4 linked regions of the Homo sapiens genome follow. The protein of the gene in region 4 interacts with the protein of the main gene of each other region in a pairwise test. Each region holds a gene or a part of one and is shown on either strand. Other genes may lie near its edges.

Evidence for each region.
Region 1: the proteins of PLEKHA5 (region 4) and ARHGEF9 interact in a two-hybrid assay, tested with the Homo sapiens proteins (one large-scale study listed by BioGRID and IntAct).
Region 2: the proteins of PLEKHA5 (region 4) and CCDC92 interact in a two-hybrid assay, tested with the Homo sapiens proteins (one large-scale study listed by BioGRID and IntAct).
Region 3: the proteins of PLEKHA5 (region 4) and CCDC186 interact in a two-hybrid assay, tested with the Homo sapiens proteins (one large-scale study listed by BioGRID and IntAct).

What each region holds. Positions count from the first base shown.
Region 1 is NC_000023.11:63,782,415-63,786,536, forward strand, and holds the start of ARHGEF9 (rho guanine nucleotide exchange factor 9), read right to left. Parts: upstream 2,801-4,122; 5' UTR 2,732-2,800; coding exon 2,702-2,731; intron 1-2,701. UniProt on the Homo sapiens protein: Acts as a guanine nucleotide exchange factor (GEF) for CDC42. Promotes formation of GPHN clusters.
Region 2 is NC_000012.12:123,935,126-123,938,478, forward strand, and holds the end of CCDC92 (coiled-coil domain-containing protein 92), read right to left. Parts: intron 2,706-3,353; coding exon 1,933-2,705; 3' UTR 501-1,932; downstream 1-500. Other genes in the region: DNAH10 (dynein axonemal heavy chain 10), read left to right, coding at 210-356.
Region 3 is NC_000010.11:114,129,204-114,132,703, forward strand, and holds part of CCDC186 (coiled-coil domain-containing protein 186), read right to left. Parts: intron 3,316-3,500; coding exon of another isoform or gene 3,189-3,315; exon of another isoform or gene 2,982-3,188; coding exon 2,726-2,981; intron 2,134-2,725; coding exon 1,944-2,133; intron 1,467-1,943; exon of another isoform or gene 769-1,466; coding exon 688-768; intron 1-687.
Region 4 is NC_000012.12:19,132,733-19,136,232, reverse strand, and holds part of PLEKHA5 (pleckstrin homology domain-containing family A member 5), read right to left. Parts: intron 1-3,500.

The sequences.
Region 1 (4,122 bases), on a different chromosome or scaffold from region 4:
TTTAGGCATACTGGCTAACCCAGCACAAACTGGCATTGCAGAAAGAAGCCAAGAATAAATAACAATTTACCGTCCAGTGTGAACTCACAGTTTAGCATCCTGTATCTATGAGACAGATTTTATTCTGTAAAATCTTGAACAATGTTTTATGTTCAAGGCCCACGATTTACATGTAACACTTGAAATAAGTTACTACAGTCAAATGTACTAAAAAGAAATCTCACTGTTATAAAAAGCTCAGTTTGTACTTCGGGCACCTTGCAAACGAAAGAACAAGGAGCAAAGATCTTTCAGCTAGCCACGTTATAAAATGGTGGCTAGATACACAATCCCTATTTGTTCGTAATGAGCCACTAGTTAAATTTTATCCAACACATACTTCTAGGAATCTGAGAATCTAAGGCCTAGAAGGAATTTTGGTGCTTATTAACATCCGCATTTAATAGGTAAGAAATCTGAGGCCCAAAGGATTTCTGTTAGTGGCAAGGCCAAAACTTAGAGGTTCCCTGCCTCTCAGGCAAGAATAGAGTTTACTACTCCCATCTCTTGAATTCTGGTAAACAGCTAAATAAATGCTTTCATCATATAATATTCATTGTCTCAGTCCTCTAAGAATATTATGAGATTTTTCCCCATCAACCAATCCTTAATTACACAGTCTCCACAAGATGTCTGCCACCCTTTTCTCTCTCATACACTGTTGGCAAAACTTCAAATTTCTTCATTAATTTAACCTGTTGTCAATGAGTGGCTCTGGGCCCCTATACTTCAATATATTTGGGAGAGGAAGTAAGTCTCACCCTGACCCAGTTCCCAGTTGCCAGAAATGCCAGGACTGGCATGGATTTTTTTCGGGTAATTTTTTTTTTTTTTTTTTGAGATGGAGTTTCGCTCTTGTTGCTCAGGCTGGACTGCAACGGCACAATCTCGGCTCACCGCAACCTCCCCCTCCTGGGTTCGAGTGATTCTCCTGCCTCAGCCTCAGGCATGTGCCACTACGTCCAGCTAATTTTGTCTTTTTAGTAGAGACGGGGTTTCTCCACGTTGGTCAGGCTGTTCTTGAGCTCCCGACCTCAGATGATCCACCCGCCTCGGCCTCCCAAAGTGCTGGGATTACAGGCGTGGGCGGCCGCGCCCGGCTTTCAGGTAAATTTAATGGCACTAGATCATCCTGAAGAAAGTCCTTTCCCAAGATCATGACTATGTTCCTTTCTTCCCCTCTCAGCACCATTTGAGCAAATGATTGGTGGAGCAGTGGGGAAGGACTGTGGCAGTCAGGAGACTCAAGTGCTAGACTCAGCTTTGCCTCCAAGGAGTTTGTGGTCCTGGGCAAGTCTCTCCCACTCTCTGGATCCCAGCTTTCCTGGCTGGACAGCAAGGACTCTAAGGTCTTTACCTGCTCTAATCTTTTCTGGTTCTACAAACATTTGATGCAGCTTTAATGGGACCTCAGGGAAGTAGGGAGGTCTGGGAAGAAGGGTCTTTTGAAGCCCCAGCACATAGGCATATGAACCGGATGCCCTTAAGAACCACTGAAACAGAGATCTAACAAAACTCTGAGGAAGGGAAGAGGACAGCCCCTCTGAATATAGTCCTAGCCCACACCAGATTCCCTCTTCCCCTCCACAATGAAAGCAAAAATGGAGTTAAATATCAGTTTTTGCCCAACCACTTCAGGCTACTTTCCTTCATCTGCGGGTTATGGGTGGCAGCGTAGAAGTGTGGGCTATTGCCATCAGTGCCTGCTGACCCAACCTAACTGCCTTCTAAGGCCCTTTTGCTTATGCCTCCCAGCTGAGGACAAAGTCATGGGGGCCTCCCACTCCCCAGAGGCCCTAACCAGGCTTAAGCTGCTCCTGGCTAAGTCAGAGAGGCATCAAAATGCAGCCACCACTTCCTCTCTGCAAAAGGAAGTCATTCCAAGGTCTCCAGGTGGAGAAGGGAACACCATGGCATAAAATGAACTGTTGGAGGATTATACTAAACACACACACAAGCACACACTCCTTGGGAGGGAGAGAAGAGCTCTGTTAACTGACTGTGGCCCAAGCCCATTTCCAGAATGTGGGTTTCTGCAGCTGTCTCTCCTTGACAAAGCCCCAAGTGTGGACAGGGTGACCCCAGCCCGGACAAGGAAGGGCTTTAGGGCTCCCTCAGGCAGCTTCCTGAGAGAGAGAGAGTGGCTCTCTGGCCCTCATGCTCTGGGGCTGACCAGGGAAAGGAGTTGCAGAAAATCTAGTTGGGGGCAGGGGGGAGTCATGCAGCTCTCCCATAAGGCCCCCTCCACAATTCCAGGCTTTGTGACCGTCCCCTCCCCCCACAACCCCGTGCCAGCTTGTCAGCCTCCTGCGAGCTTCACTGCTTCCAGAGAAGCCCTCTGCCATCCCCCTTCCCTCTCTGGCCTCCCAAGTGACCCCTGGGATGTTCCTGGGCACATAATCTGGCCCCCACCCCTATTCCACCTTAATCTCAGAGGGAGATAGAAAAGTGGAGGGGGATGGTAGGGGGGTTTCCTGGGCAGGCAGGCTAGCAGGGACTCCTAAAATGGCCACAGCAAGCTCACTGGTGTCTCAAGGACGGCGGCTAGGGCGGTGGGCAGAGGCCAGGGTGCTCACTGCCTTGTGGCTCGTTGGAGGAACTGGAGGTGGGGCTGGGGGACTGAGAGGCTCAAGCAAGGGAAGCCAAGGTTACATGCACTCACCATTCCCGATCCGCCCCTTATCCACTGCATGGTGCTTGCGAAGTCCGGCTTCTCTGAGGCCCCGTAGCTGGCGCGAGTTGTCGCGGGCTGACTAGAAGGGCTGGGCTGAAGCAAGCGAGAGCCCCAGCGCCCCCTCCGCCGCCCCTCCTCCACAGCCCTACAACCCAATCCCCTCCGCCCCGGACCTCGCCTTCAGTCAGTTTGTTCCATGCCAACCGGCAGGCTCTGTCTCTCCGCCCTGCTGCTCCTAGAGGTCTTGGCAGGGAGAGGTGCGAGTGTGGGGGGGTCCTAATGGGCTGCTTTTGTCCCCCACCAAGGCTTGAGAACTGTGGGGGTGGGGTGCAGGGAGAGGATGGGGGCGAATAGCCTCCGCCCGCCCAGGAGAAGGCAGCTGCTACCTCTGCCTGCCTCCCGCTGCGCTGGAGTTAGATGCTGTTTATTGTGGGGCTTCCCAATTGTGTCGAGTCAGCGGAAAGTCCTTTCCAAAGTTACCAGAGGTGTTGTGCCAATCTCCAGAATAATAAGATCCTGCCCCAGTGGAGCCAAGCCAGCACTCTCATGCCTCCCTCCCCCACCCTCCCTCTGCATACTCCCCTAGGGTCTTCTCTCTTTGTGTACTATCTGAGAGCTTTCATCTGCATTACTTTCACTTCTCAGAACAACCCTGTAGAGGCAGCCATTAGTATCTCCAAGTTATAGATAAATAAATGGAGGTTTGGAAGAGGGAAGGGGCATAAGGTCACATTAAAGAAAAAAAAAAGATAAATCCTCGACTTTACCCTCTGCGGCTTTCCAAGCCTCTTTCGGCTATCTCTCCCTTTCTATCTCACACACACCACTCCAGGCTTCTCCTTCATGCCCTTAGGAACATGAAAGGTAGCTTGTTGATGGACGAATTTTCCATTTGCTTATTTTGCTGAGAATGAGTTGAATGCACATCAGCGAAACAGGCAAACGGAGAAACCACCCACCTCTTTATGATTCCCCCAACTCTGGGGAACACAACACAGGCTGGTACCTTTGCTTAGGCTAAAAATTGACTTTGTCAGTCACACTAACATCTGTTATTATCCCTTATAATCCTCACAGTAACTCTATGAGATGGACACAACAAGGATTCTTAATTGCCCACCATTACAGACTTGAACACTGAAGCCCAGAGATTGAAAGACTTCTGCTTAAAGTAGCACAGCCAAACAAGACAAGAATCCAAGGCTCCTGACTAGAAGAGCAGGTCAGGCAAAGACAGAATTGCAAAAACAGAGGTTGCAACCAAAGTAAAAGGAGTTACAGTATGATATTAGAAAGAAGTTCCTGGAGATAATTGACATGAAGACATCACTGGCCTGTTACACGTACTTTATTTGTCCTCTTCTTTTTAGCACAACTTCTGCACTTCATCCAACCTGTTGTTTTGTCCA
Region 2 (3,353 bases), about 100 Mb from region 4:
CAGGACCCACTTTTAACCAGGGTGTCAGTGTGAAGCCAGGTCCCCGTGAAGCTGGCGGAGGGTGGCCCTGAGCAGCCCCAGCCTTGTGCGTGTTCTCAGGTGCAGTCTTGCACAGGGGCCCCTGCCTGTCAAGACTTACACTGCACCTCTGCCTTTATCCCTCTGCACCCTCTCTCCGTGGGGGCATCTCACCTGCCTTTCCCTTGCAGAATACTTTCCGGACCCCCGTCTACACCACCTCCATGAGAAGGAACGCCATGGGAGTCGGCTTGGTTTTTGAAGCTGATCTCTTTACCACGAGGCACATTTCTCACTGGGTGCTGCAAGGAGTATGCCTCACCCTGAATTCTGATTAACCTTTGGGTGAAGAAAACTGCTTAATGAATTCGGAGCCTGGGGTTGTCAGAGTGATCGGGTCTGCTGTCATTTCTTGGGGCCTCTCAAGAGGCAGGAGGGGGACTGACACTGATTTTTCATTTGAAATCAGCCACTTAAATCTCTTTCCATACAAATTAACCTGAATGGTTTTGTTTTTAATACTACTTTTTAAAAGGAATTTATATAATCAAAAAGTAAATATTGGAGAGTATTTTAAGATGTGTGGAGTTTTCTTTTCCTTCTCAGAGAAAACACTTGATTAGGCAAAAGTGCCTGGCATACATAGCATTGGCACAAGTGAGAATCCTAATGTAATTTCCAAAGGTGTGTTTTCGATGATCCAGGTCTGTTTCAGCAGATGCTCCTTTTTGGCAAGAAGGGCTGATGATGTCGGGCACAGAGCAGAAGTGACCAGTCACCTGGAGCCACTTCTCCCCCTTCCAGAACTCTCTGGCCCTAGCTTCTTTGGCTCTGACCTGCTACGGCGACTGTGAAGTTGTTGAGCTTAGTGTTTAGTTCCTGCATGAGCTTCTACCCCCAGCCTGCCTGGGTCTGTGTGGGGTCAGGTAAGGACACAGAACCTCCAGGACCAGTGGTCACTGGGCACCCCTTCCCTCTGTGCACCATGAGGCTGGCCTGGAGCCCTGGCTGGCCACCTGGAGGTGAGGGGTGGCTTCACTCCATGAGGGAGGAGAGGGGCTAGCACGGGCAGCACAGTGGGCAGGGGCCATCAGAGGCAAAAGCAGCTTCCCACAGAAGCTCAGGAGCGCAGCACATTCTAAGGACTAGCTCTGGGCCGGGAGGAGGCCGGAGTCGCTTCTGGGACCTGTGATTGCTCTCCCTCCTGCAGTCTCCTAGCCCTCCTTCAGGTGTTTGTTTAATAAAAGACACAAAACAGAAGGAAGGCAGGTTTAGAAAATAAAGTTTGTTGGGATCTTAAACATTTTGGATAAAACTAACAAAAAAATATGAACACACATTCAGGTTGTGGTGCTATGAGGAGTAGCGTCATCTTATTTAGTTCCTTGAGATACACGCACGGCTGCTCGGTGATCGGTGCCGCCCTGGGAAAGGTTGGTCAGGAGGTGACAGGGGTCTCCAGGAGGAGCTCGGGAGGTGACAAGGGTCTCCAGGAGGGAGCAGGGGCTGCTCGGCCAGGCTGCCCTGGAGCTTGAGGATAAGGTCAAGGTTGGTATGTGTTGCTCCGACTTGAGAATGAATTAGGTGTGTGACTGTGTGGCATCGTGAACATCAGTAGTGACGCAGCCGTGGCCTGGGCTTTGCCTGCAGCGCACTTAGGTTACACGGAGCGGGATCAGAAGCAAGCGATTCGGCACACAGGCGTTTGGCCACAGCAATTAGGAAATACATATTCTGCGGCAGGGACACGATCATATTTTGGTGTGAAGAAGAGGGCAAGAGAAGCAGAAGGAGAATGGGTCGGTAGGTGTGAAAAGTGTTTGGCATGCATGGGATTAAACAGAAAAGGTGTGGCTGAGATTTCCCAGTGGTGCTCACAGTGCATGGACAGCGCGGGGTGGGGCACGGCGGGCTTCACACAGTTCTGTCCGTCCCTGAGTGCTTCCTCACCACCTTGCCTCCGTTCACCTGGTCGACCGCCAGGGTCTTCACCTCGGGCTGGGCCTGCGGCGGGGTGGCGTGGTGGATCCGATGTGCCACCCCGACGTGGGCCTTGTGCGGCTTTTCGCGGGCCGGGCTGTGCTGCTCGCCGCTTCGGTCGGAGGCGATGGGGGGGATGACGAGGGGCCTCTCTTTGATGAGGTGGACCTCGGCGGACTCCCTAGCCAGCAGAAATGGGGTGGGGTCGGGCATAGCATCCACTGGTTCCCGCAAAAGGAGTTTCCTGCTCTCTGCCCCGAATCTGTAGACCTCTTCAAATTCCGGGTGCAAGGGGGCTGAGAGGCTCTTTTTCATGCGGCGGCGAGGCGTTTCGGGTAGCTTGTCTTTGGGGGGCGCTGGCTTGTAGCTGGCCAGCACGGGGCTCCCTGACGGGCTGGCATCTGAGGTCCCGCTGGAGCTCATGAGCTTCTTCTTGGCGGCGTGCAGCTGGGAGGTCAGGTAGGCGATGGTGCTGGCCCGCTGCTCCAGCTCGCTAGACAGCAGGGTCAGCTTGTGACTCTTGGCCTTCAGCTCCTCCAGGTACTTCTTCTCTCGCTCCTTGATGGTGTTCTCCAGCACTGTGATCATCGCGTTTTTCTGCTCCAGTTCTTTCAACAACTCAGCATTTTCGTTCTCTTTCACTTTCAGTTGGGCTTCCAGCTCTTCACATCTTTTCTTTAATTCACTGCTTTTAGAAGTCCCGTCTCCTACAAGAATAAGCCGAGGAAGCAGGTGAAGAACTCATTAGACTGAGGCCGAGTGGTGAGGCCTATGGGGCAGGCGGACCTGTCTGGTGGGGGCCCTGTCTAGGCTGTGGGGGCCATGCAGAAGGCAGGGCTGTGGGGGCTCTGGAAAGACCCCTCCCCTCCCCGAGGTGGGGAGATCGGGGCATCTCAGAGGCCCTTTCCGGCTCTTAGTTCTCTGGCCTACTGCATAAAAGAATGTCTCTGAACCTTAAAGATGCTGAACTTAAAACAGGCAATTGCAGAGTATCAGACCTCAGCAAACACTTAGGATTCAACTGGCCGCAAATCCCTCTGTCTGCTCAGATGGCATTTATGGAATGCCTGCTACATTCAAAGTACTGTTTTGAAACTCAAATGTAAAAAGAATTATCCATGTCTATTGAATTAAAATTCTGATGTTTAGAGGAGAAGAGGTGTGGGGCTGTCACCTTTGCTCTGCCGCTGGCCGCCTCTCTCACCCCCCTACCCCCGTCTCTCTCACACACACACACACACAGACTCTTTCCCACTTCCTGCTCAGAGAGTGAGCTGTCTCGCCTCTGTGGCTCTTACCCTTGGTCCCTCCCTGCCCCTGCCCTAACACTTCGGGCCTCTGCCTCCTTTTGCTGT
Region 3 (3,500 bases), on a different chromosome or scaffold from region 4:
ATAGTTCCGGTTACTTGAGAGGCTGAGGTGGGAAGATTGTGATTGAGGCTGCAGGGAGCCAAAGTCACACCACTGCACTCCAGCCTGGGTGACTGAGTTAAGACCTGTCTCAAAAAAAAAAAGAAAGAAAAAGAAAACACAACGAATAAAAAAGAAGGTAGGGAGACAGATCATCACATAGAACCCCATGACAAATCTGAAACCCCAGGTCATGAGTAGAACTTAAATATTTAACCAGAAACATTTTTTACAATATAATTATATATAACCACAATTTTTCATACTTCAAAATGAAACAAAGCATATCAATACTTTTTAAAATAAAAAATGCTATTTATTTATTTATTTTTTGAGACAGAGTCTTGCTCTGTTGCCCAGGCTGGAGTGCAGTGATGCGATCTCAGCTCACTGCAACTTCCACCTCCAAGTGATTCTCGTGCCTCAGCCTCCCGAGTAGCTGGGATTGCAGGCGTGAGCTACCACACTCAGCTGATTTTTGTATTTTTAGTAGAGACGGGGTTTCTCCATGTTGGCCAGACTGGTCTTGAACTTCTGACCTCAGGTGATCCACTCATCTCGTCCTCCCAAAGTGCTGGGATTACAGGTGTGAGCCATCACACCTGGCCAAAAATGCTATTTATTTTTATATCAATCATGAAATAACAACTAGAGCCACTAGTTTTTTACCTGATGAACTAGAACGACTTCCCATGCTGCTGACTTCTTTGTCATAGCTTCCACTCTCAACCTGATCTAATTTTCTTCGTGCTATAGGAAAAAGAAGATTATTCGTCACAATTATCAGGACCATTTGCTCCTACCATCTCTGACTTTAATTGCTAAAATCACTGAGGCAAAAATGGCATAGACAAGAGAAAGTTCTTGAATACATACTTTAGGCAGAGGGCTATGTCATTCATATAAAATGTCATTTGGAAATGTAAAAGTCAAGTACAAAATATACAGAAACAACATTATAACTGACACTGGCATCACTTAATTACAGTGGAGTTAACTTTTTAAAGTATTGAAAGATTTAGAAGTTCCTTACAGTACCAGAAATTTCTTCCAAATTTCCCTTCAATTACATCTATAAAAACAAACTAAACTCTATGGCAAATATCTGAATATATTTGTATTAAGTAAATGCTAAGTCCCTTTTAGCTTATTACTATATTTCACCCTATTTTAACACAAATAAAGCCGTGAGAAATAGTAGAGAATAGGAGGTTGAAATACGTGTCTTATTTATTTTTGTATCCCAAGCATATAGCACAGACACCCAATGACTGTATGACTTTTTAAAAGAAAGAAATCTGGAATCCAGTTCAGCAGTCAATTGTTATGTCTGGGTAATTTATAACTTTCTGGGGTCTGTTTCTTGAAACCCAGGTGAAGAGTTAAGTCGCAACGATTTCCAAGTCAGAGGACGCATCTCGGGTATCTGCACCCTAGATGCCGGTAGCCTAGATGCAGCACAAAAGAAATCACAGGAATGTAAAAGAAGATATCAGAACTGCTATTTATACTGATATTTAAAAATAGATTATTTTAAATTTCTATTTTTCATATGTTCTAATATATATAAAAGACTAACACATGTTTAAAATGTATAAATAAACATATCTAAATTGGATAACAAATGCCTAAGCACTTTTTATTGACAGGAGTATGTGATCAAAAGTTTAGATACTAATGCCCTAACATTGCTTTCCCAATTCTCATGTTTTGTGATTCTGTGAGTAAATGTCCTTTAGCATACAAGATATCCTTTAGGATAAAAGATCGGTCATGAAATTCCAAGAAGTTTAACAATTTGGTTTACTAATATTAACAAAGAAAACATACAGCTTCAATCAATGTGGCAGAATCACAAAAAATAAAATCCTAATGATTAAAAGAAACAAACACATTCATGGTCTAAGTGTGGAAGAATTTTATACCTTGCTGAAGTTGTTTGGTGAGATCCTTGATACTAGAGGCATGTTTACGTCTCTGAGTTACTAACTCATCTTTTAATTCTTCTACCTGGGTACTCAATGCTTTAACTTCTGTTTGTCTACAAGCGAGTTCAGCTTGCAGAGTTTGGACTTCCTCTTTTCGCAGTTCTTCCTCTTTCAACAACCTACTTTCCTGAATAGTAAGTAAAACAAAAACCACCAATTTTAGTATGTTTGTTTCCATTAATGCTCAGTTTATATAACCTTAACAATCTAAGGTTCTTGACAGTGGAGATTCTTCTATTATTATTCCTTATCAGCTTTTGTTTACTTGAGCTTCTCACAGTTCTCATATAGAAAAGCAGGGGGATACATTAAGGAGAATGTCATTCTATACATACCAAGCAACATGTGATACAGGTTGTTGAATTTTTGGACTAAAGTCTCAAATCATTTTTATGAGTAACTTGAAGACACTCTCATAAATTATAAAAATAGAAATTTAAAGTACCTTTTAAAAATATACAGTGATTCTAGTCAGGAAGGACACAAACCAGTTTTCTCATTTTCAAAAGTAAAATATTATTCATAATCATTTTAGGAAGAAATTTTATTATAAATTATAACAGTTGAGGAAAAACTGACATTTCTTACAGCAGTTGAAATTGTCAGAAAGTCAGTGTCCAGGAAAGAACTTAATTCAACTACTATTACTTTTATACTGTTAGGGAAATTTAATTTGTGCTTGTTACGTTGTTTTAAAAAAAATGTAAATTTATACTTACCAAATTAATATTTGTCTGTTTCATTTGTTCACACTGGCTTTGTAACTGACTTTCACTACAGGAAACTTTATCAAATTGTGACTGCAAAGAATTGGATTCAGACTGAAGCTGTGCATTCTTACTAGTGAGCCTTTCTGTAAACAGCAGCAGCTCAGATTCTCTTTTCCTACTGCCTTCGATGTCTTTTTGTAGGTCATTAATCAAAGAATTAAGACTTTCCACTTCTTCTTTCAAATTTTCAATTTCTTGCTTACCTCTAAAACACAAAATTTATATTTAAGAAAAAATAAACCATTAAAAGACATTAAATTAATGGTTTGGGAATTTTCATCTAGTCAAATGCTTAATAAAGGTACTTCTATTCATTCATCCAAATATTTATAAATGCCTAATATATGCCAGGAAATAAGAGCTGGAAAGAAAAGTGAGCAAGACCAACATGGCCTCTGCTTTCAAAGAGCTTTTAGTCAAGTGTGGAAATTATATGTGTAAAAAAACATTTTTTATGATAAAAGCACAGAGTGGGTTTGCCTAAACTAGTGTAAGTGATGCTCAAACTAATACTTGAAGCAGGAGTCAGCAACCTTTTCCTGTAAAAGATCAGATAGTAAATAAGTTAGGCTTCTGGGTCATATGGTTTTGCTGCAATTGTTCCACTCTGCCATTGTACTATGAAAACTGCCACAGATATTACATGAATGAGTGTGGATGTGTTCCAAAAAAACTTCACTTACTAAAAGAGGTAGTGGGCTGGATTTGTTTTGTAAGCCATGGT
Region 4 (3,500 bases):
AATTATTCAGAAAAAAAGTATTAAATATCTTTAAAGATAAAGATTTTTGGCCAGGCACCATGGCTCATGCCTATAATCCCCCATTTTCGGGGACCAAGGCAGGAGGATTGCGTGAGCCTAGGAGTTCAAGATCAGGCTGGGCAACATAGGAAGACCCTGTCTCTCTCAATCAATCAATCAATCAAATTAGCCAGGCATGGTGGTACACACTTGTGGTCCCAGCTACTCGTAAGGCTGAGGTGGGAGGATCGCTTAAGCCCAGGAGGTCAAGGCTGCAGTGTGTTGTGATAGAGCCACTGCACTCCAGCCTGGGTGACACAGTGAAACCCCCCTCAAAAAAAAAAAAAAAAACAAAGTAAGATTTTTCATATTTTACTGTTTTTTGGCCAAATGGATGTGAAGGAAAATACATTCTCTATATTACATATTTTTTTAATCTAGCTGCAAACTTGTATTAAAGAACCAATTTCAAAGTGTATAAAATAAACTGATTAACTCAAACCTATACAACTCTTACGCTGATCAGGTCCTTTGTTTACATTAGCAGTACTATCTGTTTACATGAAGATATGTATACAAACATTTTACAAGGAAACGTAAGCACAAAAAGCAGCAAAAGAAAGTACACACAACCCTGGCACTACATACATCATACTTATCTGTGATTGTCTATCCAAAGCTTAAAGAGGGAGGATAAAATAGTTAAGAAGGATAGAAAAGCTAGCTTTCCATATTTCCCGCATCATCTCTGCTTGGCATTGTGAGTTCCTTGTTTTCCAGAATATTATAAATCCCAGAACAGTACAAAATTCAAAGAAATTTAGAAATGGAATTTAGAGGTTGCCTTTTCCAGGTAACCTAATTTAAAGACGTGAAGACTGAGCTCCAAAGTCATTAAGGTCAAGACCACATTTCAGTTCCTATGACTTCCCCACTACAATCCTCTCCTCTTACCACCTACAGAGATGCAAGTGTCAATACCAAAATATAATTAAGAGATAAATTCTTTCTGGTAACCTGCCATTTTTAACACCAACCAACATTTGTCCAGGAGAGGAATAATTTAAGAGTTATATATATTTCACTTCACAATGGAAGCAGAAACAACTGAAATTCTTTAGGTCTCCCTTCTTGCAGTGAGAACTTTCCAGAACACAGGATTAGGAATAGTCAAAGGGCTGACATGTCTTTTATTGGCATTCCTATCTTTCCACTTCCCATGTGAACAAAATCCACCCCGATAACCCTGTAACCTCCTTTACATACAATTTGATCAATAACCACCTTTCTTCATCTGAGAAAGAAATGACAATGAAAAACTATAGCCACCAACACGAATCACTTTCCTACTTCAGACTCCTATCTTTTCCTCCACTCTGAATATTCTAAATATAGTTTATGTTCCTGGGGTTTCTCATCCTGCTGTCTTTGCAAACTGTAAGTTCCAAAGGCATGTTTCTGCTGTTTTATTATGTGTGTGACAATGGGAGTAGTAACTCTGACTACTTCATGAATGAATAATGTATGTGAAGGTACTCTAAATTGTAAAGTTTAAGATAAAAGTAGTGCCCCTATCCTATTAGAATGATAAATAACAATACAAACAAGTAAAAAGTTTCTAGGAAATTACAGTGCACATTAGGGATTTAACTAACCTTAAAAGAAATTAGTCTTCTGACATTACCCAGAAGATAAAGCAGTAGCACCTAACATTCAGTACATCATATATTTATCAATGGTTAGTTTTTTTAAAAGTTTAATGAGTGATATGCAACACTATGCTCAATTTTAGGAGAAATTACTTCCATAATATTATAAGTTATTTATTGCTACTTTTGGACACAATTACTGGCTATGAATACCAAAATGATTAAAACCTACAAGTTTAAAAATGTCTTTAAAGTAAAATTATTATAGCTTTCTTAATATTGTCTTAATTTTCCAGAGAAACCTACTTAGGCATTAGACATGGCACTCAAATAAAATTCTAATTTGTTTAAGTAAACATAAAAGAAAACCTAATCAAAATGGCTCGTAAAACAAAAGAAACTCACTCAATGTCTTCCTAACAGCTTAGTTCTAAATTAAAACATACATACTCAGCCCACACAGAATAAGATTTTGTACTATCAAATAAACATTCATCCAAGAATGCACGCAAAGAAATTAAAATGTTATTGAAAATTGAAATGTTACCTCTGTTTTTATAAGATGAGCTAGGCTTAATGTACAGTAGTCAAAATTACATTGAATAAATGACCTGAAATGAAAAAACTGTTTTTCTTCACATATACCATACTACTAGCTTGACAAGAAAAGAAGTATCCCTTTTCGTGGCAATATCAACTCACTTTAATTTAGGATGGAAATAACCAATAGAAAAACATTTGATGACTGCATTTCACTCAAGTATTTTTTTAGGCCATCTAATAATGTATAGTATAATCTCCAAAGAAAAGATTTCACCCAAAAATATTCACAGAAAGACCATACCATGAAACTATTCCATTCCTGTATCTTCTGCTTTCTCTATTTCTACATCCAAAAGCAAGCATTCCTAATACTTATAAAAAAGCCCTTGACGTTTTATCTAAGTATCTTTCTAAAAGATTAAAGAACCATACAGGTAATTATAATTTACTGGAAGTATAACATGATCTTAAAAATGTCACAGTAAAAATAACTTTCTAGGCTCAATGAAATAAAGGTAACTTTAGCTAGGTATCTGTTATTGTTTATAAACTACTGAAGTCTTAACCCAGTTTGGCATTTCAGCATTCTCTTTCATGTCTCAGTTTATTAAAATTAAAGAACAAATAAGGTTAAACAATAAAAACAAACTCTTAGGTAAATAGTTTCTAATATAAAAATAAAAAGACAAAACCACCCATATTTTTCGTTGGGGGATTAAAATTTTTCCTACATGATGTTGACCTCCAGCTTTGTATTTGTCTCCAAGTAGTACTAAGTTATTAAGTTTGAACATAAATTAGTTTAATATTCTAAAGAACTGGTTTTAAGATTGGGACTGACTGGTCATCTTTTCTCTCAAGCTCTACTAAAAGCCTTTTTTAAACAAACATATCAATAAAACATCTTGACTTAGACATATTTAAATAAACTGAGGCAAAAATACAAACAATGCTCCAATATATGCTCATGAAATATTCAGTAACTATTTCTATTTTTACTCCCTGACCGTCATTGTTTATCAAATTGTGCCTAGCTTTACATCACTTTTGCTACCTATAAACAGCCCTGGTCAAAATATACATGAACAAGGTTCACTAAAAAAAAAAAAAAAAAAAAGATGTTCACGTAACTCAGATTTTTTTTTGTTTGTTATCTCTCAGCACAGATAATCAAAGATCAAAACTTTAAGTACCACATAGCTAATGACCAATAATCCTCTATTACCCAGGAATATACACAGAAGCACCAAAAAAAAAAAAAAAAAAAGGTAATTGTGGTCATATTCTGATGAAGCTGGACGATTCCAA